Linked DNA regions of Homo sapiens: region 1 is linked to region 2. Evidence: fine-mapped expression QTL. A gene starts in region 2. The other region holds a variant in brackets. All regions are shown on one strand. Distances are between the middles of the regions. Region 1 overlaps FREM2 (FRAS1 related extracellular matrix 2). Region 2 holds the start of LINC00366 (long intergenic non-protein coding RNA 366).

Evidence for each region.
Region 1: its variant is fine-mapped to the expression of LINC00366 in prefrontal cortex (CommonMind, PIP 0.92).

The regions. Positions count from the first base shown.
Region 1 is chr13:38,696,190-38,712,660 of GRCh38, reverse strand. It overlaps FREM2 (FRAS1 related extracellular matrix 2), which reads right to left. Exons shown (of 24, transcript NM_207361.6): 2 at 14,874-14,963. Among named protein-coding and RNA genes, the nearest start is that of FREM2, 17 kb to the right of the region's middle. RefSeq lists a silencer at 14,395-14,689. The variant T/C (reference allele first, on the strand shown) is at 7,339.
Region 2 is chr13:38,560,464-38,576,934 of GRCh38, reverse strand. It overlaps LINC00366 (long intergenic non-protein coding RNA 366), which reads right to left and starts at 9,211. Exons shown (of 4, transcript NR_046999.1): 1 at 9,140-9,211; 2 at 233-277. All of the region lies in intron 2 of LINC00437 (long intergenic non-protein coding RNA 437), which reads left to right. LOC105370167 (a long non-coding RNA gene) reads left to right here and starts at 9,315. Exons shown (of 2, transcript XR_941883.3): 1 at 9,315-9,403; 2 at 9,484-9,851.

The DNA.
Region 1 (16,471 bases), 140 kb before region 2:
TGTGTGTGTGAGAGAGAGAAAGAGAGAGTAAGAGACAGAGAGAAAGAGAGAAAGAAAGAAAGAAAGAAAATGTGTATGTATATCTGCCTGCCTTAGGGCAACTGATAGGATAAAAATTGAAATGGGTACAAAATGCTTTCTATATTCTAATTAATAAATATACCAAATGATCATTAAAATACTTGAAGGGTCTATGTAAATATATTGTCCTTGAGGAAGAAAGAATAATATAGCAAAACTTGTATTTAGCTATATTGGTAGATTCAAAGGCGGCCTAATCAGTTTTATCTACTACTTATATTAAGGAAACTTGGGCTTGGTAATACAACCACTATGAATTAAGCAACTACCTAACAAGGCAGAATCATATTTGTCTAGAGTATTGCAGAAGAGCCCTTAGCCACATCCAGTGCATACACCACATGCTTTGGCTCTGCTCTGTTGCATCTAGTTCTTAAACTCTCAGGGGCTGGGCGCGGTGGCTCACGCCTGTAATCCCAGCACTTTGGGGGGCCGAGGCAGGTGGATCACGAGGAACATGGTGAAACCCCGTCTCTACTAAAATTACAAAAATTAGCTGGGGGTGGGGGAAGGCGCCTGTAGTCCCAGCTATTAGGGAGGCTGAGGCAGGAGAATCACTTGAACACTGGGATGTGGAGGTTGCAGTGAGCCGAGATCACACCACTGCACTCCAGCCTGGGCAACAGAGCGAGAATCCCCTCAAAAAAAAAAAAAAAAAAAAAAAAAGAAATTATCAGCCCCAGAGACCCACAAGATAAGCCACTGCATTTAAAACTGTTTGTGGTCACTCTCAGTGCTTGGGGATATTAATAACAAAGTGTTGACCACATTTTTAATCCAGGTTTTTAAATTTACATAAACTCGATTCACTTCAGTTTTTCCATAGAAAAAATTTCTTTAAAATCCTAAAGTGCTTTTAAATTTTTTGGGAAGTAGTAAGACTATTTTAAAAACTATCTATGCATGAATATAATACACTTATGATATGATCAAAGACATTAAAACTTTAGGAATCTTCTATTTAAAAAACAATCCATTCCTTGAAATATCAAAAATCAAATGCTATATGGTATCCATAATTCTAAGGACTCTATAACACATGGTTTTCACTACATTCACTATGTGTGCTCATACAGTGAATATTTAAACAATATGGTAAAAAACACAGGCTCCTAAGATAGCATCTTAAAACAAGTGATTCATTAATATTTCCAGATAGGTTTACTTTACCACATCATTTAGTAACATCACTTATTTTTTTAATCTAGTATAAAATGCTTTGCTAGTCCACTTTATCTCTTACTGCTATCTTCATCCTACATTAAATGAAACAGACATGAATTGTCATTTAACTGACTCTCTAATGTTTACTTTTACCACATACATACTGGCTGGAGGCGAAGACGGGGATGGGAAGGGAAAGGGAGCTGGTGGTTGTCTCAGTTTTATCAAAGTGATGCAGAGAAATGGGAGATTAAAGTGAGCACATTAAGACAAGGGTGTAAACTCACTCCATTCTCAACAGCATCCAGAACATAAATCAAGAAGGTACAATATGCTTATTACATGAACCAAGTCAAAGAAATGGCAGCATCTACAAATGCTGAAATATCTGGAAGTGATATCTCTACACTAGAAACATACCTAGGGGTGTACAAATAAGGACAGCAATTTCATTTATAAAGAGCAAGAGTTTGATGTCACCATAAAAGTGTGTGCAAACAATTACAGGAAAGTATATGTCCATATACACCTATGTGTTCTTGAAAGATATAGAAAGTAAGCACAAGCTTCCATTTATTTTTACACTATTTTTAACTGGTAAGCCTATTCTGTTTTTCTTTAGATTTTTCTCTTGACTTCTGAAGTTACTCCACATGCAACTTTAAGAGAAAATAGAAATCAACAATTCACCTATGCTTTACATTTATTTATGACTCACTCCACACGTATTTATTGACCTCCTACTAAGTGCCGTGTGGTGACTAAGGCAACTCAGCACTGAAGAAGAGACATAAATATGAATGAAACAGCTCTCGCAGTTGAGAAGCTTTGTAAACACAAATGTATATAAGGAGTTCCAGTACAGAGTGGTACATTTAGGGCTGGTATACCAATTGTTAGGGTGAAATGCATCTCGATTGATTAACAGATTAGCAGAAAGTTTAATGAAAACTTGGCAGAGCCAGGGTTCAAGGCCAAAATGCCTAGAAGAGCTCTCTTCTCATTGGTCCTGAAGTACATAGATTCACCTAATTAAACTTTGCATTCCAGTGAATAATTTTTGTGACTTCATCTACAAATAGAGATATTGAATATATGAGTCTCATATATTTTTTAAGTCTTAGAAATAGTTTGAATGTAATTGCTTTCATTCAGGAAAAGCTGAGTAGATTTAGCACCGTGACCAATATCATTGATGTTTTTTGTGTTTTTTTGTTGTTGTTGTTTCGTGACAGAGTCTCACTCACTCTGTCACCCAGGCTGGAGTGCAGTCGCGCAATCTCGGCTCACTGCAACTTCTGCCTCCTGGGTTCATGCGATTTTCCTGCCTCAGCCTCCTGCTGGGAACACAGGTATGTGCCATCACGCCCGGCTAATTTGTGTGTGTGTGTGTGTGTGTGTGTGTGTGTGTGTGTGTGTGTGTGTGTGTATTTTTAGTTAGACTAATTTTTCACCGTTTGGCCAGGCTGGTCTTGAACTCCTGACCACAAGTGATCCACTCATCTCAGCCTCCCAAAGTGCTGGGATTATAGGCATGAGCCACCGCGCCCGGCCATCACTGATGTTAAGAGCAATTTTCTACCAATTGGGACTACAAGTCACTTAATAATAAGCAGTTTAAGGGTAAAGTCATTAGAAGGGTTTGGTACAGTATCTGTGTCAAATCACGGTCCTAGGAGAGTACCCTTCAGCTTGTGAAAGCCACTTTAAATAAAAGATGACGTCAAAATAAAAGATTTTTAAATTATCCGTGTGATTTGAGGAGCAATTTGTACTATGATATAGCACTTATAAGCATTCTCATATAACATAGGTATATATACCTATGTAGTATATTCTGCATAATATATATGCATCTACATAATAGTCTAACAACCTTTTACATTATATTATATATTATTAAATATTTGTGCTGCCCCATACATCACTTGGTAAGCAATTATGTATTTGTATACATGTATGTGTCTATATATTTACACAGTTATATGTACATATATAATATTTTACAATTGGCATAATGATTTAAATTATTATATAAATCAATATATTGCTATATACATCCATGTTTTGAATCTAGCTTTGAGATCCAAATATGAGTTGTTATGGGAAACACAGCGGAGATGTCTGACCCTAAGGATAGGAGTAGAAGGTGTCAGGAAGAAAATGTGCCATCTCTACTGAATCTCATGCAGAGGAAGTGGGCAGGGGATTGAGGAAGAAAGGAAAGGCGAGTGTGCATGAAGTAGCATGGCATGTGCAGGAATCCTGAGTAGGCAGCATGGTTGCATTGGGTCAGACCTGCACAGTTTGTACAACATGGGAAGAGTCTGAATTTTATCCTGTGAGAGAACATTGAGGCTGGATGTGGTGGCTTATGCCTATAATCCCAGCACTTTGGGAGGCAAACGCAGGTGGATCACCTGAGGTCAGGAGTTCAAGACGAGCCTGGCCAACATGATGAAACCCTGACTCTACTAAAAATACAAAAATTATCTGGGCGTCATGGCGGGCACCTGTAATCCCAGCTACTCAGAAGGCTGAGGCAGGAGAATTGCTTGAACCTGTGAGGCAGAGGTTGCAGTGAGCCAAGATCGCACCATTGCATTCCAGCGTGGGCAACAAAAGAGAAATTCTGTCTCAAAACAAAACAAAACAAAACATTGAGAGTTATAAAGTAGAGACAACATCAAATTTACAGTTTAGAAAATTATGGCAGAAGAAGGGAGGAAAGACTTTTTTTAAAGATTATTTATTTATTTATTGAGACAGAGTCTCATTCTGTCACCCAGGCTGGGGTGCAGTGGCGCAATCTCAGCTCACCACAACCTCCATCTCCCGGGTTCAGGTGATTCTCCTGCCTCAGCCTCCCGAGTAGCTGGGATTACAGGCACACGCTACCAGGCCCAGCTAATTTTTGTATTTTTAGTAGAGACAGTGTTTCACCATGTTGTCCAGGCTGGTCTCGAACCCCTGACCTCAAGTGATCTGCCCTCCTTAGCCTCCCAAGATGCTGGGATTACAGGCATGAGCCACTGCGCCCGGTCTAAAATCACATTTGTATTTTTAGGTAATTTTGGAAACAAGCTATATCCAGGTCAGAGGGGAAGGCAAAAAGAGACAAAGAGATCCATTAGAATTGCACTGGAAGAAATATTTTCCTTCACTCAATAAATATTTATCGAGCACCTATATGTACTCAGGCACTGAGGGTATATCAATGAAAATCAGAGATAAAAATCCTGGCTCTCATGGACAGCATATATTATAGTGGGGGTCAATGGCTAACATGAATATAGCACTTACTTTGTGCCTATGATTATTTTAAGCAGTTTACATCTGTTACGTCATTTAAGATAAACTTCAATGTGGTTCTGAAGGAACCAATGGCCATGGAGAATGTGTGGGAATCCTACTCAACAGAAATTCAGGAACCAGGGAAAGCTGCCTGGATTTAGCACCTGGGTGGACACGGATGGTGAAACAAAATGACCCTGAGGTTTAGGTGGCAAGAAGAAACTGAGAAAACAATTTCCTAAAGGATTAAATGTAGCCTACCTTTCATAATTTTATAGCAGTGATGCAATGCACTTAATTTTTGGCCATTTCTGCATAAAATCAAGTAAAGCAAGAGAAGTATTACGGGGACACAAAATGGTTCTTTTCTTTCTTGGGGATTTCTAAAGTCTACCAACCAGTTTCACAACTTTATTTTCAATTTCTGAAGTGGCACTCTTGAACTATTCTTAAAAACACTGTTTTCAGTGTTCTCAACTCGTGCCTCTAACAGCTGGATAAGTAGAGTTAAAGGTAGCAGGTGGCACATTACAAAGATGAAAGGATTAAACCTTCCTGTGCTAAAAAATCCAGCAGAGGGATGGAGAACAGGCGCTTCTCTCTCAACCTGCAGTAATGTAGTCAGAGCTCTCTGGGAATAGAAAGAGGACAATTGTGTCCTCACTTCCTTCATCAAAAGCTACCATGAAGGCTGCTATTTTCTAAGCTTAGCATGAAATTAACATGCAGAAAAAAATGTTCTAAGTTGAAAACCAAATATAGCTATATAATTTTATTCCCTAATCTTTTTGTATAATTTCTTTGTTCCAAGAATACTAATACTCTGCAAAAAAATGAATCATATCTAATGGTAATTAGCTATAACTGAATAATTCATTCTAGAAACTTCTCTCCTAAAAATGTAAGAATTCTAAGTGTAAACCATCTGAAGGTACACTGTTTCTTTAACATAATATTCCCTCAGTGAAACATTGCTTATATGCAGCCACTTGGCAATTTTTTTTATAAAGGGCAGAACCGGATTAATAAATTAATAATCTTAGTAAACTTGCACTAACTGTTCTGAAACAGAATATTAAGAAAAACATTTTTTTCTCATTTATACAAATATTTTTGCTCTTAGAAAATGTACATTATGAAATCAATCCACATTTGTGAAGCAAGAACAAAAGTACCTATACTTTATTCATGTGTGTGATTCATGCATTCATCACTGTGTCACAAAGTTAAACTTCAATGAATCTTATTTTTCCTTATTTGCAATGAGGATTAAGTATGACATTTGTCCTTTTGAACTCATTGGGATATTGTAGAAAGGTACAAGGCTTTAATACTTATCAGGTAGGAAGTTTGTGATTGTAGATGTGAAATAAAATTTATTCATTACCCAATCATTACTTACAAAAATATTAAAATTACAAGATTCTAAAAAGCATATAGTTTTCCTCTAATCTCAGAAAAAGCAGGATTTTATATTTTCATAAAATAAAATCAAGAAGCATTCTTTTAGTACAAATTGTTTCCATAAGCAACATTGAGTTTTTGAAGGAACTTGTTAGGAGTATCTACATACACACAACACTCATTTTCCAATGACCCCAGTAAGGAATTTCAAGTTCCTTAATGCCTAAATTTAAAACAAGCTCTTCTCAGTGCCTAAATTTACTAGTTTTCTCAAAGGTACATTTATTTACTTGCTTTTTTCTCTATGATATTGACTAAATGGGGCATCTGGCCACTGGGGTGACTATATCATTCTCTATATAACAAAGCATATTTAGGCGATTCCAATATCTGAATAAACATGGCATTTAATCAATCTCTCCAACCACTTATGGCTCAGTGTATTAGAGATTTGCAATCAAAACTACCCTTTGAACCTCATGTTTGCTAAACCCAGATGTTTCGAAGGGTTATATTTTGATCAAATCAAGATACGGTATTAATCTTCAAGCCTATAAAGTTTACACTTCAACCCTTAAAAAGGAGAAATAAAACATGCAGGCTGAGCTTCAGAGATACAGTGGGTTTTTAAAAATTTCTGTTATTTGGCCATAGTGAAAACTCATTTGTTATCATTTTTGTAATGAAAATATTAGTTAAACTACTTACAACGTGTGAAATAACTTTGGAAGCCTCCGTAGCATTGAAACGTTGCACTACAGAAGGGCTCATCAGGTTCTGACTTTCCATCCCTGTGTATTCCCCCATCTTTCTACCAACACCAAATGAACAGTCTAACTGTATAGACAGCTGCTGTGAGAAAGACAGGAGAAAGGAAGAAAGGAAGAAAAGAAGAAAGGGAGGGAGGGGAAATAAAGAAAGAAAAATAAAGAACAGCATAGCTCTGGAAGCCCTCAGAGTAGCAGCTACAGCAGCAGCAGCTACCTGCATAGTTGTTACTATGTGACAGGAACTGTGCCGCATGAATGATCTTATTTTCATGAATTATCTACTTAATCTTAAAAAGAACCCTATTAGCTAGGTACTGTTATTATCCCAACTTTATAAATGAAACTGAGGCTGAGGAAGTCTCGGTCACTTGGCTCAGGGTCACGTCACCAATTACGGTAAGAGGCACAAGCAGTATTTGTTCCAGCTCTCACTCCTAAAGCTGCGCTTCTAACTGTGATGGAAGAAAAGATAAGCAAGATCAAAAGGCTGGCTTCCTGTATACACATTTCAAAGAAGTAAGAGGTCTCATAATTAATATGTTTCTAATGTCCTCTTAATTTCCTCCCTTAAACCTAGTCCATGCCCCTCTAGTCTATTTCATCTCCATAAATGGCAGCACCATTC[T/C]CTGCTGGCTGTAAAACCCAGAATCATGCTTACGGTCTCCTTTTTTCTTACCCTACACTCCAACTCATCAATAAGTCTTACAGATTTGGATCCAACATTATATCAAGCTTACCTTATTCTTCCCATATGACATCTGTCTTTCTGCATCGGCCTCATGTCAATCTTCCTGTTTCCCCTTGCTGCCCTCCTATAGATCCTCTACACCTGCAAGAATCATCTTTCTAAAACACAAATTGGAACACAATGCTCCCTTTCTTTAAAATGATTTAGTTTGGGATATGGTTTGGCTCTGTGTCCCCACCCAAATCTCATTTCGAATTGGAATTCCCATGTGTCGAGGGAGAAACCTGGTGAGAGGTGATTGGATCATGGTGGCGGTTCCCCCATGCGGTTCTCATGATAGCTAGTGAGTTCTCATGAGATCTGATGGTTTAAAAGTGTGGCACTTCCCTTCACTCACTCTCTCCTCTGCTACCCTTTGAAGAAGGTACTTGCTTCTCTTTCATTTTCTGCTGTGATTGTAAGTTTCCTGAGGCCTCCCCAGCCATGCATAACTGGGTCAATTAAACCTTTTCTTCACAAATTAGCCAATCTCAGGTAGTTCTTTAGACCACTGTGAAAACTGACTAATACAGGTGGATACTCTTTTCTTTAGCACAAAATCTAAATCACTCCTCTGGGTATACAAGGCTCTGCACCATCAGGCTTTGATCTAGCTCTCCAGCCTCATCTTGTTACCTTCTCTGGTTTGTTCATGGAGCTGCAGGCATGCTGGTGCTTTTCTGGTGACTTGAACACACAAAGCTCAGTCCCTTTGCACATGCTTTTGCTGCCACCTGGAAGGTTTCTTCTTCCCTTCCTCTAGTGGCAGCTTCATCCTGTCCTAAGTCTATACTTAAATACCACCTTTCAGGTGCCTTTCCTGACAGCTGTGTCTCTATCTGGGGCTTAATTATAACTGTCAGAATACTTTAAACAAAGTTTAACTCATTCGTCTACTTCTTTATCCTAAGGATGAATCTCAGGTCAAAGATCATGACTGTAATATTCATCACTGTATTCTCAGACCCCAATGGACACCTGAAACATGGTGAGTGGGTGCTCCAAAAATATTTGTTGAGTAATTCGATAAAGAAATTTACAAGGAATCTTGCTTTAGCCAATAAGATTCACCATAGAAACTCTGACCCTTCTTTTACATTGCATTCTGGTTATCTGTTGCATTATCTTAGGTTCTGGCAAATACAGAATAATACCAATTACCACTGTGTGCTTCTCCTTTGAAAATAACTTCCCACTTCTCCCAGCCATCAGAGCAAATGTAAAGAGACAGATTGAGATACTATCAAATTATTAACATATGCCACAAATAAATATTTGATTTGAGATTATGGTACTTTAATCACCTATGAAAAATATGCTTAGTGTTTAAAAGGTGACTATCATTTGTTCTGAGTAATATGAAATCATGTGAAATTTCTAGAAATCTTCCTAACAAGAATTCATTGTCACCCAAAGATTTAACAATTTAAAAAAATGTTCTCGGAACTAAAGCCAATGAAAACAGTATATTCATATAATGTATAATTTTGGAATGAATCTAAAGAATAATAATAAATAAAATTGAGTTTTACTTTTCTATCTAAAAGGTATAAAAACTTGAGTTTATACTTTTCTATCTAAAAGGTTTAACTTCGTTCTTGCACACAGTACAGGTACCTTAATAGAATCATGCTTTTAAAGGCAGGGATCTGGCCTAGAAACACCCTGATGACTTGATCTATTGTGAACTGCTCAATGAAGAGTGAAAGGCTTACAAACATTCAGCCACAGTAGCCAACACTCCTTCCCAAGATCTGTATTCTAGTAGACCTTGTGGTCTCTCACAGATTAAAAATATTTGTATCAGTGCCTGACATTACTTCACCATCTTATTATAACTCCCTAAGGCACTAGCATCTTTCCCCCTGGTTCTCATGTCACTAGCAATTAATTTTATTGCCAAGAATGCTTGCTTTTTTCTCTGAGCTGAATATGTCTGTATAATCTTTTAATGCTTGTACTCAGACCTCTCTTTTCTACTTACTCTATTTATATTTTTCCAGCCCTTGATTTAACTTCAAGCTAATTATCAGTAATTATTTTGCCTTAAACCCCAAAGTTATTGGTCATTTTCAAGCAAAAACTTGTACTCCTTCTATTAAAAATGAAAGGCTTCCGGTAGTCTCTTTGTGTTTGAGGAGTCAATCATCAAATACGGAATAACAATTCAAAAGCCTTGACCTTAAATGACATTTCATATACAGAAATGACTTTGCAGCTTCTACTATGTCAAGATACTATTTATAATATCCTTCAATAGCATATGAATCAAGGATCTTGGGGGATGGAAAATTGGGCACCAAAGGCATAATCAAAGACAGCAGCAAAAAAATGTCTGGCTGTGGCCCAGATAACACTATAATGGCCAACACAGATATTATGTCTGCCGCCCCAGTTTCAATGCCAAACTCAGCAGGCAGAACTCACTGAGACTGCATGCCTATGTCATATGAGAGGTTTCAAATAAGGAAGCAGCAAGCTGGTTTTCATAATGAATACAAATGTAAGACTCCTCCTACTCAATATGTCCAGCCAGGTGATCATGTATTCTAATTTTTTCTTAAGCCCATCAAGAAACAAGCTGGATCTGATGCTGAGGTATGTATTCTAATTTTTTCTCAAGCCCATCAAGAAACAAGCTGGATCTGATGCTGAGGCTTTGAGACTTAAAACAAACAAACAAAAAAGTTTACACGAGGACTTTTTAATGAAAACTAGAGATACTTTTTGCTGGTATTGTCTTCTACTTCTCCACCTGTCCTAATGTTATCTCATACCACACAAGAAAATACTGGGGTAACTGAAAATACAGTAGTGGTGCTGCTGGCTTGAAAATTTTAGTGACTTATAGGAAATGGTTATTTCCTTTTAGATTTTAAATTGTATAATTCTTTAATAATAAACCGACAAGTTTTTTTTTCTGAAAAGGCTTGTTTAAGAATAATATGAGCTCTGAACTGGTGGTTAATACTTCAATCTTAAGTACATTTCACTGAAGATTTTGAAGGAATTTTCACAGCAGTTGATTTAGTTAATTTCATGCGTTTAAAAATGTGAAAGCTTCACTAAAAAACTTTCCTGGTGCCATAGGGATTTAAATTAATGCTAGGATAGAACAACGTTCTAAAGGAATGCAAAGGGTCTACTGGGAATTGTTTATAGGAGTTTTTCATATAATACTATTTAATTGATCTTTATGTCAAAAGAGAGCAATTGTTTTTCTCCTGTTTATCCATTCATTTATTTAATGTTCGGTAAGTATTTACCTCGTGCTCAGCCTTGGCACTGAGGTACAAAGATTAATGATACCTTTTTTGATATGAAGGAGTTTCTTCCTTACTAATGGAGGTTTCCACATTAGCAAATAATCATAATATAAATTTTTACTGTAAATAAAGTTGGGGAGAAAAGCATAAAAAAGAGTGAGACTAATTATGTAATTGTGATGTTGGGAGCAACTTTGGAGAGGAAATGATATTTGAGCCTGGTGTTGAAGAGTGATTAACAATCATTAGGGTTGAGGGTGGGGCATGCCTGGAATAGTTATTTGAGACCAGCTTTCACATCACAATAAAGAGCTAGAAGGGCCCGACAAAGCACTTTCATGTTAGAATACCTTATAGAAAAATTACAGAGAGTTGAACACTGAGAAGGAATCAGATAAAAATGTTTGACTACAAAGAGGATAAAAGAATAAATATTTTATTTCTCCCTAACAAAATTCCAGAGTACTGGATCTGGAATTACAATTCAAAGAGGCAGTCAACAAAGGAAGATGTATTTCCCAGGTCTGTATTATTATAAGTTACCTTCGTGAAGATATAAAGCACGAAAACCAAAAGAAATGGAAGACAGCTAAATCCACAGGCAGTTGCTACATATATACACGAGCTCATTAGATGAAGCCGCAGACAGCGGGAATATATTCTTGAACTTCAGAGTTTGACCTTATACTTTGTAATGATGCATTCATGTATGTTGACTGGCCCAGAACACCTGGGTGAGTGCCTTATTCTGATATCACATTTTCATGCTCTTTACTAATATTCCAATAAGCATATTGCATTATAAAATAATCATTTTAAGAATTGCACTATGAAAGTAACTATTGGGTACTAGACTTAGTACCTGGGTCACAAAATAATCAGCACAACAACCCCCCTTGACATGACTTTACCTATATAACAAACCTCCACATGTACCTCTGAACCGAAAACAAAGGTTTTTAAAAAGAGAATTACACTATGATACCAAGAAAGAGTACTACAAAGTTTAGGGCACTACAACTTTTAAAGTATTTTAAAATAAAAATGCACATTTTAGAAAACACAAAGCTCTTTGTCTATCCTAAAAGCAGATCCTACTCTGACTTCACTCACATCTATTAAACATTCCTAGAAAGTTGGTCTGGAGAACCCAGAGAAGTTCAAGAGTTCCCCCTCTTATCCCTATCCTGAATAAGTGTGGAAGTTATCGCTTATTACTGAGGAAAGAATTTGAGATTGAAAGCAGCCTCTAGTTGCCCAGCTGTGCAGCTTGAAGGAGGAAAGTTACTTATTTTGGTGACTCAGTTTCCTCATCTGCCAAATAGAAATCATACTAAGTTTTTTTTGCTGTTTTTGTTGCTCACAGAGATGTTATGAAGGTAAAATCGCATAAGAAACAATAAATAACATAGAAGGTTTGAAATCTAATTGAAAGAACCCTAAGATACAAGGATCTGTGTATGTGTGTGGACATGTGCTATATCAACCAACGTGTATTAAGTCCAAATACAGTAGACTTCCCCTGAGGTAAAGACCCTGATGTTATCTGTTGCTCAGATAGTGCTCTCTTTACTTCTGTCATTTGGTAAAAGTCCCAAAGCACTCCAAAACTTCAAAGGTAGTAACCCTTTCCCAAGCATAGTCCTTTTAGTAATGGATAGTCACTAATCCATTACTACATCATAACAGAAGAATCCTGTGGCGAGCCAGATTCCCATGGTAACACAATTAAATCTGAAACAAGAGGTCTGAGCCTTCTGTTCTTCTCAATCTCTTCTCCTACTCTAAATCCCTTAAATTGAATTATGTTTTATTTTTAAGGTTATTCATGGATGATGGTTGCCCCACTAATTTCCTTAGATAGTTACTGTTATAAAATCAATCACGTTGATTTGAAGAAGATGCATTTATCAGATTGGAAAGCAAGCTGGACATACAGAGTTCTCAATTTTATGCCATTGTGCCCTGACTTGCTTCCCAGGGGTGAAATACTCACACATTTCATATTTCATCGGGATGACTTATAGATATGCCTACTATCATTGTATAGACTAGACGACAATAAATCACTACAGTTAATTAAGTTTAAACAGTATTGCACTTCTCATTCAAATGTCAGAAGATTTATACGGCAATGCAAAAATCCTAAAAAAATTTAAGAATCAGGTTAAAACAATTTAGGGATACCAATGTGACTTTTTAATCTTGCAGGTCTCTGTGTTTATTCTGTCAAAGGATAGTTTTCTTATATCAGGGGAATTAAAGTAAATTCTATTCAACAGCTTGCCAAAATCTGCCTGAGCTCCATAGGTAATGTTATGCCAGTAAAGAGGAAGAGGGTAAAAAAGAAAATCTGAAATTTTTATCTCTCACATGAAACTCTCTCTCTAAAAAGACTCCTAAAATGATATGTTCCTACTTCCATAAAGACAATCTTTGGAGGCCTTGCCACATTTTCAGCAAATTCAAACATAAACCGAGCCCCTTCAGCTAGTCATTCTTCACTTAATATTTTGCACTTAATATTTTGAAATATGATACTATAGAATGTTTTCCAAAATTGGAATAGAGACCAAAATTTTAAAGTAAATGCTACCATTCCACCCAGGTAAGGTAAAATAATGTGTGTGTGTTTGTGTATGAGCAAAAAAAGCAAAATATTTTATTAAAAAGTATAGAATATTTTAGTGTAATTGCAGCCATTGAATTTGAAACTTTTTTTGGTAATTTTACAGAAAGTCACACTTTTGCTATTGAGGTTTACTCAGTCATCCTAAGAGATAAACATGGTGTTTTAAACCAATAATTTCATCCTTAAATTTTTATATATGTTACAGAGATTTGGATTATTTCAGGGTTTCACTCTACAGTTAGTTACAATAGAATTTCCCATTTGAGCAGCAAAATTCAAGAAGGTTTTTTTTATGAGTTGATTTCCTTTTTAGAACTTCGTTTTATGCTAAGATGCCTTTCATCAATACGTAGAATACTAAACTATGATTTGGTTACTCAAAAAATAAAGGCACTCACATGATTGACTCTCTGATTCATAGTAGGAATCAAACAGTTGAACCCAACATAACACATTTTGTTTGCCTCTCTGGCACACACTCAACAATTGACATTTTTCAGAACTGTGATCATGTTGTGTCCATTGATATTTTAAACAAATACTATGTAATGCTTCAAAAAACATGGAGGGTAAGGATGCAGTATTTTTGAGATAGACGACATAATAGTGTGCCATTTTTAAAAAGCATCATAAGGAAACAGATAACAGAGTATGAATTATTTTTCTCCTTCCTCTCTCTGCTCTCTCACATATACCCTCAGTTCTGGTGTCCTGTTCACACAACACATGTACTAGGGGAGGTTCTTTTGCTTCAAAAGAAAACATGCAAGAACAAAAACATCTTTATGAGCAATCTGAAAGTGACCAGTTTTTCTCCTCACCCACAGGGTTAGGAAGACAAGAGATCCAAAGCTGAAAGGAGTATAAACAGCAGGCAGTTCTGGGGGAGTAATGAGAATAATATCGCCCAAAAGACTTAGCTCAGAAGTCACATCCTATACTCTGAAGTATTCTTCACACTTAACCAAGAAAAATTTTTAGCTGGACTAGGTCACAAAATCCCCCAAACTAAGAAAATCATTAGAAGTCCTGAGATTGGTGAGATAAAACAGACATTAATTTACTACTGATTTCTTGGTGAATGCAACACATTTTCCATCAGTATTAGTCCACACAGAACCCATGAGCAAATCAGGAAAAAGCAGCTCCTTTGGGCAGCTACACCTCAGTGAGCACATGGCTATGAGTGGAACTGCAGCTGAATTCCAACATCCTCTTACTGACTCAAGTAGGCAAACTCATGCAGGGTGTAATCTGAACAACTAGACATGGAGATCCTATTTATACAGATCTCTCTCTTTAGTGCTTTACAAATAGTAAGACAAAAGTGATATAACTAGAACTTTTATCTATAGCCATGACATAGTAGGATTGTGTCATAGTGAGATTGTAAAATTGTCTACAGCAAATACCAGGTTAAATTTAGGTGATCATGAAATATTACTTGATGAAGACTTCTTGTAATAATGTCATCAGAGAGCAACCAAGAAAAGCGTCTCTCCTTGCGGTCACTACCAGGAGAGGGGAATACTTACCACCATCTTCAACTGCAAAATAGAACATATCACTTGTGGCATTAGCCCCTTCTCTTAAGACATAGCATATTTTCATGTCATCAATGTCAGCTAGAAAATAACCAAAAAACAAGATGATTAATTACCAGAGTAAAATTGATGATTCATTATGGTAAATTTTATTGGCTATTAGTTTTCCTATAAACATGTTTAAATTCCTTTTTCCTCCTAACAGAAACAGTGCTGTCTTATTTCTCAGATCTCTAAGCCCCTAGATTTCAGCTGTCCCATGGACACCTGATCCCTCACACAGATAAATACAGTGCAAGAGTTAGTTTATAATAATAGCAAGGTGTTTCCCCTCCCAGTGGTATTTGCATGTTCATGCACCAAAGGAATGACTGTCTAAATATGGAATGTCAGGCACCATGACAGGTGGAAAGGAAGATATTTTGAGGCATGGCAGATTTCCTGGCACTCTTGAAATCACATCCTTTGCCTCCCAGTAGGGAACTGGCCCGCAGAGGACAGAGCTTTGCTCCCCAACACTGGCTAACTTTTCTTACTTTTTGTGCTGTAGCAGGCTATTTTTTAAGCTCTCCAAAGTTTGAGAGAAAAAAATAAGATGATATTTTCAAAAAATCACACACATTGAAATAACTGATGACTCCCTGTTGAGAACAAAAAACATCTAATAAAAGTGGAAACGGGCTGGACACGGTGGCTCATGCGTATAATCCCAGCACTTTGGGAGGCTGAGGCAGGTGGATTATGTGAGGTCAGGAGTTCAAGACCAGCCTGGCCAACATGGTGAAACCCTGTCTCTATTAAAAATTGGCTGGGTGTGGTGGTGCGTTCCTGTAATCCCAGCTATTCGGGAGGCTGAGGCAGGAGAATTGCTTGAGCCTGGGAGGCAAAGGTTGCAGTGAGCTGAGGTCGCACCACTGCACTCTAGCCTGGGCAAGAGAATGAGACCCTGTCTCAAAAAAAAAAAAAAAGTGGAAACCTTTATTCATGGCAGAAAGTTATATTGCCTCAGAAATGTTCCTTATGTTGTTTCCTACTTTATCAAATTCACATGCATACATTTGTTTTCATTATGAAGACACAATTTTTAAAACTTATTCATCCATCTTACCAGTTCCTTTCCTTAATGATGCCACACATACAACATAATAAGAAAAAAATCGTTTTGTTCTGTGATACTCATAATAGATCATTAATTGATCTGGGCCAATCAGTGAGTTTCTAAGACTACATAAAGTCAAGATCATGGCTAAAAATAGCTATGACAATGATAGGTAATATTTATCTGTCTAGTGTGTGTTCTATGGTTTTTTCATCTCCTAAAAGCTCTAGTAAGTTCATGCTATGGAATTCAAAGGCTTATAAAGAAGACAATGGCTTTATGAAATGTTAATCTCAAGTGAGGCAAGGCATTAGGATGGACCAATGATGCCACAAATTTCTATAGCTCCACTTTACAGATGTAAAATGTGTGGTCTACCCTGGCTCATAAAGTTTTGAAAGGTGACTCATTATTAGGAACACTTGCAGAATGGAAAATCTGATTTTATAGTTAATGGTACCCTCCTGCTAATAGAGGTATTTGGAGGTAA
Region 2 (16,471 bases):
TGTGTTCCTAGTTAACCATATACAAACAACATCCCAGGGAATATTGGTTTCTAGGAAAGGAATTCTATACACCTTTCTCCTCACTTAACCCCTTTTGTCTTCCTACCTGCCTAATTTCACCAAGAAGAGATCTAGATGTCAGAACATGGGCTGATTGACTATATTTTCTAAGAATAAAATTTTATAAGGAGAATTATTAATATATCTATACTAACTAAACACATCCACTTACCTGTTTTTCTGGTACTCTTGGATATAGTCTTTTATAGGATTTGAGCTGTGAATAGACAAAGAAGATCATTTGTCCAGCTTTGGTTTTAGTTTTTCTAGGACTGCATTGCACAAGCCTTTTCCCAGGGTGCATCCTAGCAGCTTAGCTCTTCAAATCTCAGCATTGGTATGTGGGGCTGCTGTTCAGCAAATAATAAAAATTTAGTTGTTTTGTCATCTGGACCTGCATTGTTCTTGAGTGAATGGTTGTCTAGGTGGTTCTGAAACTCTTGACTTCTCTAACTATGATCTTACCACTATCATAATAACACTTCTTTATTCTACCTTCATTTAATTGTTTGAAATGATAAGGCCAGTTAATACATTTCCTGATATCTAGTAGGCCCCTGAGAATACACTCAAATACATACAAAGCTTCTTCCATGGAATACGGCCCTTTGGGGGTCATAATATTACACTATGAGCGCTGATAATCTTTCTGTCTGAATATTAGTGCGGACCACAACAATATTGGAGGACAATCCTGGCTTTGCCTCTGGATGCTCTCCCATCCCAAACTTTGTGTGGGTGACTTTCTAATGAGATGTGTGCCTTTGTAAGGCTGCAACCTTTGCAAGAGAATGTCAATGCTATACCCAGCTTTTCTGGCTCTTTAAGCATGCATTCTATGCTTAGCCAGCAATTTGAATAGTTTTATTTGAGCCAGTTTTTCTAGTGGTCGGTGCTTAATATGTCTTTAATTAATACCAAAAGCTCAACTAAGAGAATTAGTATTTATGGAAGACTAAAGAAAAAGCAGACCACCAATTACACTAAAATTAAATTTTAAAGACTTACTATTGTTTTTAATTAAAAATTGTTTTCAAGCAAACTTCATGCAGCCCTCTAAGAATTAAAAGTTGATTGTTTTCTGCCTGGAAGCCAAGATCCTCCACTAGAACACATTTTGAAAACCATTGCTATAGTGACTCTCAATTTTCTCATTGTATTGTTCAGAACAACAGACTGCTACAGAGGTGGACAAAATTGTTCTGGCTTCCTGTCGAACAGCTTTTATTGAACTACACATTGCCAAGATTATATGGGTTTACACTGAGAGATAAGAAACAGCCTTGTTTTTGTTGTTGAAATTCCTATGCATTATATTGCATGGCTTGTTATGCATTAGTACCTAAGGTTTAAGTTTCTTTCCATTCTTGTAATAGGAAAGAGTTTGTTTATATCTTACGGATTCTGTAGATTACATCACTGATTATATCTCTGGAAGGCATAGAGGCATATTTCTGATTCTTCTGTAAAACCTAAGTAGGATTTGATGGTTTGTAGTAACCTAACTTTTGACTATAATATGTCCTTGATGTTTTCCTTTTGCTTCTGTAGGTTTTTCTATTTTTTGCTGAGCTACTTTTTAATGCAGTCATGAACTGCATGACAATATTTGATCAATGATGGTAGTCCTATTATAATACCATATTTTCACTGTAGCATTTTAATTTTAGATATGTTTAGATACACAAATGCTTACCATACTGTTACAATTATCTCTAGCATTCAGTACAGTAACATGCTATACAAGTTTATAGCCTGGGAGCATTGGCTCATATAGCCTAAGTGTGTAGTGGGCTATACCTTCTAGATCTGTGTAAACATACTCTATAATGTTCACACAACAACAAAATCCCCTAACCACACATTTATTGGAAGGTATCCTCATCTTTCAGTGATGCATGACTTTTTTATGTGTTAGGATCGGTTTCCAATGTTTTCAGCAACACCACCCTGAATCATACAATATGATCTGAGTATGTGTGTGTGTGTGTTTATACATATACATATGTTTGTGCATGCACCCATATATGTTATATATATTTATTAAATATACATATATATTATATACACATTATATCCATTTATATAAATCTATACAGATGTTTATATACAAAGAAAAGTTCAAAACATTGATCATTGTAATCTATGGTAATAACATTATAGATATGCTTGGTATACTGTTTTATGTTTCCTAAATTGCATTCAATGATATATTTTATTTTGAATCAGAAAAAAGTTAAAATTATAGAAATTTAAATAATACATAATTTAAAATTCTGAATACTATAGGGAAAGAGTAAACTTAACATTTTTCTAGGTAGTTATCTAATTTCTCAGAATTATTTTTGAAAAAAGCCATCATTTCTCTGTTAATATAAAATGCCACCTTTATTATAGACTAATTTCCTATCATTTGTCAGATGCTAGCATTATTTAGTCCAACATTGATTCCCTGTTTCCTTCTTAGAAATATGAGTGTTAATTTTTAGCTAGGTAAATAACGTACAAATGAAACTATGATTTCCTGCCTTCTTTATGGCAAGATGTGGTCACATGTCTAGGTTCTGGCCAATGAAATGCCATCAAGATTACCAAGTGGGCCACAGGGGAAGGCTGATTAAAGGGAACTCATTCATTGAAGAGGAATTCCTTTTTTACTCCTTTGGCTTTACTTTTCCTTCTGCCCTGCAGTGTGGAAGTGATGGATGGGTTCCAGCAAATGTATTGGACTAAAACATAACCCAGAGGGTAGAAGCCACACTTAGGATGGAACTATACACCAAAAATATCCAGGTGGAAAGCTTCAGTTATTGATGAACTTGGAGCTGTCTTGCCAGCCCTAAACTATCCGCCTCCAGACTTCTTTTATGTAAAATATAAATATGTAGATTCTATTTATACCTTTGTTCTTTGGAGTTTTTCTTTTATTTCTAGCCTTTGAACTTCTTCCAATCAGTATGGGCTATCTTATTTTAATTATTGAAGCACTTTAATGCATCTTAATAATTGGAAGTGTACTCTCCTTTACATTTATTTTGAAGGATTTAGCCTCATTTTTTTCAATTAAACAAGCTTCAGTAACATTTTTGTATTCACAAGACATTTTTCAGCTATTTTTATCATAATTATATTACACTTAGGCCATATTAATTACACAGGATGAGAATGTTTACACCATTAAGTTCTACTCCAGTGTTATAATATGCGTCTTCATTTGCTAGTCTTTTTTATATGCCACAATAAACTTTTTGTAGTTTACTTTGTCTGGATTCTGCGCATTTCTTTATAAATTTATTGTAATCTATTTATAACTTTTGTTGTTACTATGAGAAAAGTATTTTTACTCACTGTTTTCAAACATTATTATCGGTACATTGAACACTGTGAAGTTTGGAAATCGGACATTTTTCTGAATTCACTTTTGAGTTTTAATCACGTTTTTGTTGGTTTTCTTAGTTTTCCTTAGTAGGCAATAACATAATGTGAAAATTATGATTTCTGCTATTTATTGGCCTGGATTATTTATTAGTATTGCATCGATTATAATGTCTTGATAATATACATTTAATAAGACTGGTAAAAGAAATACACTCCTAATGTTTCTGACTTTAAAAATAGTTGCAATTTTTCACCATCAAGTGTTATCTTGGTTTTGATAAAATTTTTATTATATTGGAGATTGTTCTGTAGTACACTACCATGTCTTCATTTGTGCTGAATTAAAAGAAAAATATTCTATAATGTGGTTATTAGCATTCTCTTGGAAGTTCTACTAGATGGATTTTTTTGAGAATTAAAAAAATATATTTATGAAGTAAAGATCTAGCCTATTCAGATATCTATCATTTTTTTTTCACCTTTTATTTTAGTTTTGGGGGTAGATGTGCAGGTTTGTTACATTGGTAATTACATATTAGTGAGGTTTGGTGTACAAATGATCCTGTCACACAGGTAGTGAGCATGGTACCCAATAGGAAGCTTTTCAACCCTTGCCACCACCTCACCCTTCCCCATCTGGTAGTCCCTTAGCGTCTATTGTTCCCACCTCTATATCCTGTGTACTGAATTTTTAGCTCCCACTTAGAAGTCAGAATATGTGATATTTGGTTTTCCATTCCTGTGCTAATTTGCTTAGGATAATGACCTCCAGCTGCATCCATGTTACTGTAAAGAACATGATTTCATTCTTTTTATGGCTGCATAGTACTCCATGGTGTATATGTATCATATTTTCTTTATACAGTCCACCACTGGTGGGCATCTTGGTTGATTCCATGTCTTTGCTATTAAAAATAGTGCTGTGATGAATGTACACATCCATGTCTTTTTGGTAGAACAATTTATTTTCCTTTTGGCTCTATACCCAGTATTGGGATTGCTGGGTCAAATGGTAGCTCTGTTTCAAGGTTTTTTTTTTTTTTTTTTGAGAAATCTCCACACTACTTTTCACAGTGGTTGAAGTAATTTATATCTCCACCAACATTATATAAGCATTCCCTTTTCTCCAAAACCTTGCCGACATCTGTTATTTTCTGACATTTTAATAATAGCCTTTCTGACTAGTGTGAGATGGTATCTCTTTGAGCTTTTGATTTGCATTTCTCTGATGATCAGTGAAGTTGAGCATTTTTTCATGTAGTTTTTGGACACATGCATATTTCCTTTTGGGAAATTTCTGTTCATGCTCTTTGCCTGTTTTTTAAGGGGATTACTTGTTTGTTCTTGATGAATTGTTTAAGTTCCTTTTAGATTCTCTATGTTAGACCTTTGTTGAATGCACAGTTTGCAAATATCTTCTCCCATTCTGTAGGATGTCTGTTTAATCTGTTGATAATTTTTTTTTTGCTGTGCAGAAGCTCTTTAGTTTAACTAGGTCCCACTAGTCAATTTTTGTTATTGTTGCAATTGCTTTTGGGAACTTTGTCATAAATTCTTTGCCAAGTCTGATGTCCAGAATGACATTTACTAGCTTTTTTCTATGATTTTTATAGTTTTGGGTATTACATTTAAGTCTTTAATCCATCTTCAGTTAATTTCTGCATAGATCTAGTCAGCTTTTCTAACACAATTTATTAAATAGGGAGTCCTTTCCCCATTGCTTCTTATTGTTGACTTTGTCAAAGATCAGATGGTTTTAGGTGTTCAGCTTTATTTCTGAGTTCTCTAATTTGTTCCATTGGTCTATGTTGTCTGTTTTTGTACCAGTACCATGCTATATTGGTTACTGTATCCTTGTAGTGTAGTTTGAAGTTGGGTAGTGTGATGCCTGTAGCTTTGTTCTTTTATGTAGACGTGTTTTTGTTATTCAGGCCTTTTTTTGGTTTCATATAAATTTTGGAACAGTATTTTAAAATTATGTGAAAAATGTCATTGGCAGTTTGATAGGAATAGCATTGAATCCATAGACTGCTTTGGGCAATATGGCAATTTTAACAATATTGATTCTTCCGATGTATGAACATGAGATTTTTTTCCATTTTTTTTTTTATCATCTGTGATTTCTTCAGCAGTTTTGTAGTTCACCATGCAGAGATCTTTCATCTCCTTGGTGTATTCCTTTCATCTCCTTAGATGTATTCCTAGTTATTTTTTCTATTTTAAATGGGATTGAATTCCTGATTTGGCTCTCAGATTGAATGTTATCGGCATGTCAAAATACTACTGATTATTGTACATTGATTTTGTATCCTGAAATTTTACTGAAATTGTTTATCCATTCTAGGAGCCTTTTGTTGGAGTCTTTAGGATTTTGTAGGTATAGAATCATATCATCAGTGAAGAGTGATAATTTGACTTCTCCTTTTCCTATTTGGATGCCTTTTATTTCTTATTTCTTTCTCTTGCCTGATTGCTTTGGCTAGGACTTCCAGTACTACATTATAGAGGAATGGTGAGAATGGGCATTATTGTCTTGTTCTAGTTCTTAAGTGGAACGCTTCCAGCTTTTTCCTGTTCAGTATGATGTCAGCTGGGTGTTGGTCATAGATAACTCATTATTTTGGGGTGTGTTCCTTCCTTGCCTATTGTGTTGAAGGTTTTTATTATGAAAGCATGTTGGATTTTATCAAAAGCTTTTTCAGCAGCTTTTGAGATTATCAGGTGGTTTTGTTTTTAATTCTGTTGATGTCATGAATCACATTTATTGATTTATGTATGTTGAACCAGCCCTTCATCCCAGGAATAAAGCCTACTTGATTGTTGTGAATAAACTTTTTGATATGCTGCTGGATTTGGTTTGTTAATATTTTGTTGAGGATTTTTGCATCTTTGGTCATTAGGGATATTGGCCTGTAGTTTCATTTTTTTCATAGTGTCTTTGCCAGATTTTGCTATCACAATGATGACGTCTTTGTAGAATGAGTTAGGGAGGAGTCTCTCCTCCTATATATTTTGGAACCGTTTTAGTACCACAGTGACCATCTCTTCTTTGTATGTCTCACAGAATTCAGCTATGAATCCATCTGATCCAGGACTTTTTTTGATTGGTACATTTTTTGTTATGGATTAAATTGTGAAATTTAATATTGATGTGTTCAGGGCTTTGATTTCTTTCTGACTCAGTTTTGGGAGGTTGTGTGTTTCTGGAAATTTATCCATTTCCTCTAAATTTTCTAGTTCATGTGCACAGGGGTCTTCATAATTGCCTCTTAGGGTTTTTGTATTTCTGTGGGATCAGCTGTAATATTGTTTGTCATTCCTGAGTGCACTTATTTGGATTTTCTCTTTTTCTTTGTTAATCTAGCTAGCAGTCTATCAATCTTGTTTATTCTTTCAAACTACCAGCTGTTGGCTTTGCTAATTCTTTGTATGACTTTTTTGCTTATAGTTTTGTTCAGTTATGCTCTGATTTGGTTATTTCTTTCCTTCTTCTAGCTTTGGGGTTACTTTTTTGTTTTTCTAGTTCTTCTAGGTGGGATGTTAGATTGTTAATTTGAGATCTTTCTAATGGCTTCACATAGGCATTTAGCACTATAAACTTTCCTCTTAAAACTGCTTTAGCTGTATATCAGAGATTTTGGTATGTTGTGTCTCTGTTTTCATTAATTTCAAAGACTTTTAAAGTTGCTGTCTTAATTTTATTGTTTACACCAAAGTCATTCAGAAACAAGTGTTTAATTGCCATGTAATTGTGTGTTCTTCAGAGATCTTCTTGGTATTTATTAGTATTTTTTATTTTTTTTGAGACAGGGTTCCACTCTGTTGTTGAGGCTGGCTAGAGTGCAGTGATGTGATCTCAGCTCACTGCAACCTCCGCCTCCCAGGTTCAATGGATTCTCCCACCTCAGCCTCCGGAGTGGCTGGCACTCCAGGCATGTGCCATTATGCCTGGCTAATTTTTGTATTTTTTGGTAGAGACAGGGTTTCACTGTGTTGGCCAGGCTTGTCTCAAACTCCTGACCTTAAGTGATCCGCTCACCTTGGCCTCCCAAAGTGTTGGGATTACAGGCATGAGTCACCGTGCCTGACCTTGATTTGTATTTTTTTCCACTGTGGTTCAAAAGTATGGTTGGTATGATTTTGATTTCTTTAAATTTATTGAGACTTGCTTCAAGGCCAAGTATGTGGTCAATCTTACAGTATGTTTTGTGTGCAGATGAGAAGAATGTATATTATGTGGTGGATGGGTAGAGTGTTCTGTAGATATCTATTAGGTCCATTTGGTCAAGTATCCAATTTAAGTCCAGAATCCCTTTGTTAGTTTTCTGCCTCGGTAATCTAACACTGTCAGTGGGGTATTGAAATCCCCAACTATTATTGTGTGAATGTCTACATCTTTTTGTAGTTGTAGAAGTATTTGTTTTGTGTATCTGGTTGCTTCAATGTTGGGTGCTTATATATTTAGGATAGTTAGGTCATCTTGTAGGATTGAACCCTTTATCATTATGTAGTGTCGTTCTTTGTTCTTTTTTTACTGTTGTTGGTTTAAAGTCTATTCTATCTGACATAAGAATAACTACCCTCGCTCCTTTATGTTCCATTTGTATGATAGATCTTCATCCAACCTTTACCTTGAGTCTATGGATGTCATTACATGTGACATGGACCTCTTAAAAATTGGAGATGGATGGGTCTTTTTATTTTTTAATGTAACTTGCCACCCTATGCCTTTTAAATGAGGCATTTAGACTGTTTACATTCAGGGTTAATATTGATACTTGAAGTTTTGATCCTATCATGAAGTTTTTTGTTGGATGTTTTGCAGTCTGTATTGTGCAGTTGCTTTAAATGGTCTGTGGGCTGTGTACTTAGGTGTGGTTTCCTGGTAACAGGTATTGTTTTTCATCTCCGTATTCATAACTCTTCTAAGGATCTCTTGTGAGGCTGGTTTAGTGGTAATGAATTCTCTTAGCAATGCCTTGGCTGAAAAAGATTGTATTTCTCCTTCATGTATGAAGCTTAGTATGACAGGGTGTGAAATTCTTGGTCAGAGTTCCTTTTCTTTGAGATGCTGAAAATAGGCCCCTACTCTCTTCTAGCGTGTAGGGTTTCTGCAGAGTAGTTTTTCTTAGCCTGTTGGGGTTCCCTTTTTTTGTGATCTGACCTTTTTCTCTAGCTGCATTTAAGATTTTTTTCTTTAGCATTGACATTCTGGTGACTATATCCCTTGGTGATGTTTGTTTTGTATAGTATCAGTAAGGTGGTCTCTGAATTTCTTGTATGTGCATGTCTAACTCTCTATCAAGATTAGGGCAATTTTCTTGAATTTTGTCCTCAAATATAATGTTTACTAGGTTGTTTACTATCTCTTCTTATCTCCCAGGCATACTAATAATTCATAGGCTTGATTGCTTTTCAAATCCCATATTTCTCAGAGGCTTTATTCATCTATTCTAATTCTTTTTTCTTTATTTTTATCTGACTGGTTTAGTTTGAAAGACTGATCTTCAAGCTCTGAAATTCTTTCTTCTGCCTGGTCTATGCTACTAAAAAATATGCTTTCAATTCTGTTTTGAAATCCCTTCAGTTTTTCAGTTCCAGTGGCTTTGATTGATTTTGTTTTAAAATGTTTTCCTCTATCCTTATTTCCTGGATTGCTTTAGAAGTTTTTTTCTGTTTGTGTGTTGATTTGCAATCTTACCTTGAATTGCACTGAACTTGCCTGCAATCCATGCTCTGAATTCTCCATCTGCATCTCTGTGCCTCCTTTTCTGCTAGGGACCATTGCTAGAGAGCTACTGTGAGCCTCTGGTGATGTCACAATATTCAGACAGAATTCTCACACTGGTTCCTTCTCATCTGGAGATGGCTGTAGTGGGCAGGCTGTTTTGGCTCTGCTTCTACAGACCTATGCAGCAGGTTTTGTATTGGGTTCAACCTACAGGCCAATAGATGACATTTGCAGGTAAGAGCCAGCTACTTACTGCACAACAGGGAGGGTATGGCCCTGATCTGTTTACTGTGACGTGTTCTTTGCTGTTTCAGGTGAAGAGCTGGATAGTGGGGTTCCTGGTGTTCCGTGGAAGAGGCCGGACACAATTGGGCAGAGCTGGAGCCTCTGGCTTGCCCATGTGTATCCCAATGGCAAGCACAGGCACCAGCCCTGAAAAGGGTGGCTGGGAGATGCTCTTAGGGACATGCCCCAGAGATCTCTGTGTGGGGCAGAGTGAGGAGGCTTCACTGGCTCCCGCATGGTAGACAGACATGAACAGAATCTATTTCCCTATCACACCCATTGCAGGTACTTCAGATGCACACTGTAGTCTATCTCCAGACCACAGTGTGGTTGATTGAAAGCCTCAGGAAACCTTGTTTTCCAGAAGAAAATAAACTTGATGTTTTCTTTGGGCCTATCATTATCATCACTATGATTATCATGTACAGTTTGCTTGAATTTACCACAAAATTCAATGCTTGCTTAATATTAAAAAATGAGACGGTTGTTCTCCAAGATTGTGTACATTATTATTTAACCATCTTCTTCTAAATAAAGGACGATGAAAAACTTAAGATTTACTCTAGTTTTCCTCTGCCAGTTCAATGACATACTGCTTGAGAAATGGAAAAACTGGAGTTTCAACTCCCTATTTAGTATGGCAGCTATTCTGTTCCTGGCACGGCCATTTGTGTTGTGTTGTGAGCCCATTAAAAGTGATTCTATGTTTTTTCCATAGATGTCGTCTTTGGTAGTTGGCATTCTTCCCAGAGGAAGATAATGGGAATCAGACATGCTTCTGATTGTCCCACCAGCCAGCTGCCGGTTTCAGCCCAAGCCATTCTGAATTGGAGGATGATGGTCTAGCTTTACTTCTCAAATAGGCTACTCCTTCCCACATGGTCAGGTCAGCTTTTTAATTAGTTAATTTTTTTCCTCCAGCCCCACCAGTACTATATTTAGCAGAAATATACTACTTTGTAGTAAACACTACTCTCTTCCAGATTGATTTAACTCTGACAAAATAAACAAAGTCTTAGGCCAAGTGTGGTGACTTACTCTTGTAATCTTAGCACTTTGGGAGATCAGAAAGATCACTTGGGCCCAGGAATTTGAGATCAGCCTGGACTGTGAGACCCTGTCTCTACAAAAAAAAAAAAAAAATTAGCCAGGTGTGGTGACACATGCCTGTAGTCCCGGCTAATCAGGAGGCTGAGGCAGGAAGATCGCTTTTGCCTGGGAGGTCAAGGCTGCCCTGAGCCGTGAGCTGTGATCAAGCTACTGTACTCCAGCCTGGAAAACAGAGCAAGATTTTATCTATACTAAAAAAATTAAACAAATTAAAAGTCTTTCTATTCTTGTTGTTCTGGTGACTATTTCAATAAAAGTCTAGGAGAGGAGGAATTTAAAATGGGCATTCGAGTCACATCTGTTCATTCAGCAGATAATTTTGAGTACTGCCTCTGTTCCAGGCACTATCATAGGCATTGAGTGGTGGACAGAGAATGATCATCCTCACTTGCGGGGAGAGGATTCAGCCTCTTGAGATCTTACTTGGAAATTATCCCATCTATTCATTTTGAATTACATCTTATCTTGAATTATGAGTATTTAATGTAGCTGGCTCAATTTTGAAACAAAGTGATTTATAAATAAATAAGATGAAATATTAACTATATATACATAAAAGAGATTTCACTTGAGGTCCATCATTCAAGCACAATAAACCATCACTAAATATTCTTGAACACTGGCTCCATTGGGTAACAGTCTCTTTATGCTGCCATTCTTTAATTGTGTAGCATGCGTGATATCTAAATCTCTAGGCGCTTGCAGAATGATTATATTGTTTATTGGAAACACTAATAACAAATAACTTTAATTCTATTTTGTATTTTTCATTGTAAAAATTGATTGACATATGTAGTTATCTCAGACTCTTTTACTCAAACTTTTTAAAACGATTGATGCAATTGTATTCTCATAAGTTTTGGAGGCTTCTGTAGCCAAAAAACAAAAATCAAAGGCATAGGAATGTTAAATAGTAAATATTTATTTTCATATGCTGGTCCAAATAACTGGATCAAATCCTTTCTAAAATAGTAGTTACGCAGCATTTCCATCTTTATAATACATACAATTATAATATTAAAAAATCCCTATAGTATTATTCCATTTCAATGCTCTGCTACAAATCTTTTTCCATTTATTTGGTATATAATTTTTGGATAATACACCCATTCTTTCCTGATCATTTTTGTTCAGACTGTAGGTTTAATGCATATAATTCTGCATTTCTTCATCATAATCATCATTTCTAGCATTGGTATTCACTCACTGGAATGTCATGTCTATGTAAATGCTAATCCATTTCTCATTTTTCTCCTGTAAAATATTCTTTTTTTCTTATTTCTTTATTTAAAGTAGAAGCTTTAATTGTGTCTGGGTAAATTGCCACAGTTCCAGTGACAGCTTTGGAGCCTCTGATTAAAAGTCATTTACTTACAAAGAAGCTCTGTTCTCTCTAAACCAGTTTAGATGCCTGAGGCCTTTTGGTATTAATGGTCTCTACTGCTGCAGCCACAGAAATGCCTGTGATTAAAGTAATTACTAGTTCTTTAGTTGTTCATTAAAGCAATCCTGTAAAAAATTTGTTTGAATTACTAGGTAGTGACTTATCTGTGCATTACACAAGCTCAAGACAATATGGCTTATTCATATCAGCACAGAAGAGATAGGACAGACAGAACACAGCCCCAGAGTCCAGCACCTAAACAGGGCAGAGGCAGAGAAAATGCACTAGTATCACAGTTGACACTAGATTCTAAAACCTAGAAGGGCAGCCACTGGCCAAAGACTAAGGGTAGTAATGAGATTTTCAATCAGGCATTTTGTTACTTACCGAACATTTTTCAAAGTCCATTATGTCCCATACTCTATTCTGCAGGTCGCAGACGAAAAATCAGTCTCCTGGGAAAGCTCTCAGCCTGATTGAGAAAGGAGACCTATAAAGAAACAATTACAATACAGCACTCAAAATGTCACAGGGGAAAAAGTTTCTATAGAAAATGGAAGACAATGTCTAAATTCAGCGGCCTAAAGTGAGCAATTCCGTGAATATTTACCTCCTAGTTAATCTGTCATGACCCATTATGTTAATAGTTGGGAGACTGGCTTCAATTCTGGAAAAGACGCAGGTGTGAAGAATCTGAACGTATTTCCAAACTAGGGACTAGAAGAGGGCTTCAGTGCCAGTGGGGGCTTGGTGCCAGGGATAGGAAGTGAACAGAGACAAGGTTAAAAGGCAAGATGTCTGAAAGGGAGTAGTTGTTTAGGGGTGAAGAGGCAGAGAGAACACGGGTAGTTTCTAGTGCTTTAGGGTCCTGAGTATAATTTGCATCACCATTTTTAAGAAGGAGAGATGGGTAAAGCTGGAATCCCAAAGTCACGGTTGCCTCATGACATTAGATCTTGAAGGAAAAATTAACTGTGTTTCTCAGTAGGTGGTAGTAAAGATGTGGCTGCTGCTTTAATTCCAGCCTAGGTCAGTACACACTCAGGACCTGGAATGTGACTGAACATGCATGTCAAGGTGTCAATTACTCCTCCTTAAGGAGCTAAACTTGCAGGTGCAGAGGGAGGGAGACTAAATCTCACAAATGTTTAATGATAATAAAAAAGATATGCACAGAAATTTTTATTTTCATTGTACGAGGATTTTAATGCTTTATCTTAAAAATGTGTAGAATAACTGTTCTTTAAAAGTTGCCAATATGAATATTATTTTGTATGAACCTGAAGTGTATAGAACGTTGCATAGTTTTCACAAAATACTGAAAACTAATTAACTGGCTGAGTACAGAGAATATTATTTCTCTGTATATAAGAGTTTCTCAACTTTGGCACCTTTAACATTTTGGACTGGAGATCTCTTCGTTGTTGCGGACCGTCCTGTGCATTGTAGAGTATTTACAGCACCCCTGGCTTCTAAAAGCTAGGTGCCATTAGCATGCCCCCTTCCCCATCACACTTCTGAAGTCAGTACAATAAAAATATTTCCAAACACTGCTTTATATTTTAGAATTTGAATAGTTATATAACATTATATTATTTGCTCCATACATACATTTCCTAAAATGTTTCTCAATTCCTTTCCTAAAGCATGACTCAATTTCCTTGAGATGAAGGACATTTAAAGATGTCATCAAACCTCATCAGTGGGGGATATTTTAAGAACAACCACCAATATTATTACCCTGGAGACACTTAATTCTATCACCCTTCACTGGCCACCACAAAAATAAACCAAATAATTAAAAAAAATTCCAGACCTATTAAGAAGACTCGTTGCTTTTCTAGAATTATCACTAAAGCTTGATTTTTTTTTTCAAAGTGAACAATCAACCAAATGCATTGGAGATATTATGTTCACCAATGGGACTGTAAATGACAAGTCCACACGAAACCCCTGAGAGGCACTGAATACACTAAGTTGCCTCTTTTTATTGGTAATATGTTTAAAATAAGCAATCAATGTATAGAATACGTTTCATGGTATCACATCCCAGTTTTATTCTTCCTCATATGGTTGATTTTGTTATGACAAAATAACATCACTCTTCATGTACATAAATGCACTGCTTAGCTTCCAGAATAGTGCTTGACATTCAGTAAATATTTGTTAACTTAATGACTGGATTGTCACAAGATGCCATGGCATTACCAAGTTCTCTTTAACAGCAAAATTTAAGTCTTTTACTGACTAATTTGAAAATAAATTATTTTGCAAGATTTTCTATTTCAGTCTTTGTAGTGGATGTCATGGTGCACAGCCTTTGTGAAGCACTCATTTCCCCAGGAGTCAGTAATTCTGACTGCTGATGGCTCATAGCTGAAAACTTCCTAGGAATTACCCTCCATCAGTAGAAGCTGGAGGCAACCTGCATCCAATGGTGGTTGATTTAGTGATACAATTTGGACATCTCTAAAGGATTATCCTAGCTCCAGTGCTCGCTGTGGGAAAGATGAAAAGTTGTTTCAGTTGCATAATGGCTCAACTTCTTCCTCTGCCCACTCCCCAACAGATGCTTTTCCCCTAGCAGTCCCCAGAAAGCTTTCTGTATACAAACATCCATCCCAAGATCTACTCCCCTGGGGACCTGATACACAGCAGGTGGTGCCAGGAGCACTCCACAAAAGAATAATCTAAAAAGGGAATTTGAACTGAATAACCCGTAACCTATTGAGAGAGATCATTGGTAACAGGTGGAAAGAGGACAGGGCCTGGTGTGCTGTGGCAATGCAGTTGATAAAATTCTCACCAATGCTGAACTGGGATGAGCTAGTGCTGTTCTCAGTGGCGCGATACTTCTCCCCTCTCTGGAAACGCTTGTTGAAGCCTGAGACAATTCTGATAGAGATGATGTATGTGTGTTGAGGGAGAGGGGATGATGGTGTTACTGGCATCTAGCAGGTAGTGTCCAGGGATGGTGCTTAACAGAACGGACCCCTGCCCCCCACAAGAAAAAAAATAACCTGTCGAAACGGCAGTAGGGTTGAGGATAAAAACAAAAAACAAACAAGTTACAGTGAAAGGAATGCACTCGCTGATGCAGTCTTTCAGGTGTTGGAGAGGCTAGGGGAGATTAGTTAGTATGAAAACAATTGAATGAGATGGTTCTTACTTGAAAGATAGAGGGTGAGTAATCACCAATTTAAAGCAGAGTGTGAAAGTCAAGGGCCCCTTGGCAGCACATCTCTACAGAAGATCCTGGGCATGAGGCCGAATGCTTAATTATAAGGGTAGTTGAACTGCAGTGAAGTTTGAATCCTCAACCTAAACAAGACCATTCTGTCAAGATTAGAGCTGAGATTGGGAGGAGTGAAACCTCAAAGTTGGGATGTGACACTTCAGTCAACTCACTTGAAAACCTTGCAACCCAGGTTACCTCTACCGCTTCTGGTCTGCATAACTTCCCCCATCCCCAGCCCTGCTTGAAGATAACAGAACACTCTGCCTTTCAAGACCAGGTGTGCTGCCCGGAGAGGATTGACTTCTACCTCCCTTCTTGACAACCAGACCAATGAGGAGGGCCAAGTAACAGTAGAACCCATTCAACAAAGTGCTGGGCTTGGCGAGAGGGAAAAGGAACTCTATCTGAGAGAAGCTGCGGAGACTTAAACGTGAACAGAGGAGTATACGTGGACTTAATCCAGAGGGTGCTGAAGCAAGGGAGATAGAATATGAAGTTGGGTAAGGGAGAGTTTATAGAAATAAAATTACTCTAAACGCTCTAAAAAGGACCTCAAGGAATGATGCTAATCCAGTGCTAGGTTGTCTCTTGGAAACTTGGAAAGTGAAGGCTCATGCTAAGTGAAGCAGAAATGCTAGAACTGCCATTGTAGATGATGGATGAAGGGACCAAAAGGCCCATAGAGCTGGAAGGGCCAGAGTAGATACACTGCATGAGGCCTCCATCATTGTGGGCTCCTAGCACCCCAATTTTACTGGGGAGTCCAGTTCTATAATAACATCTCTTATCATCAGCCCAGTCCTAGAGGAGACCACTGCCACTGAGCTCCTCTTCAGTGTTGGGACCCCTTCCACCTTATTACTTCTTAAGTGGTGTCTTCTGGGCTGGTGTTTCCTGAACTGATATACTCCTGATCCCGAATCTCATTTTTTTTCCTCTACACTTAACTGCTTCTTAGGTAACAACAACAACAACAAAAAACCAAGCGTGTGCGCGCGCACACACACACACACACATAGACACACATCAATGAGTTTCTCATCCTGTGTTGCCTAAGTGAGCCTAACCCTGAGGCCATCATGGTACTCAGAGAACAGGAAACCCTACCCCAAGTAGACCCAGGCCACCTTTGCATTGCTACATCAATAGAGAAACATGCTCCTGTAGTTTCCATTTTGAGGGGGAAAATCTTCCCATTGCTCTCACACTCTTTCTTAGCTACCCAAATTTCTCTGTACCCCATATTCCTGGGTGCTCACCTGACCTACTTTGCTTAACTTCTAAG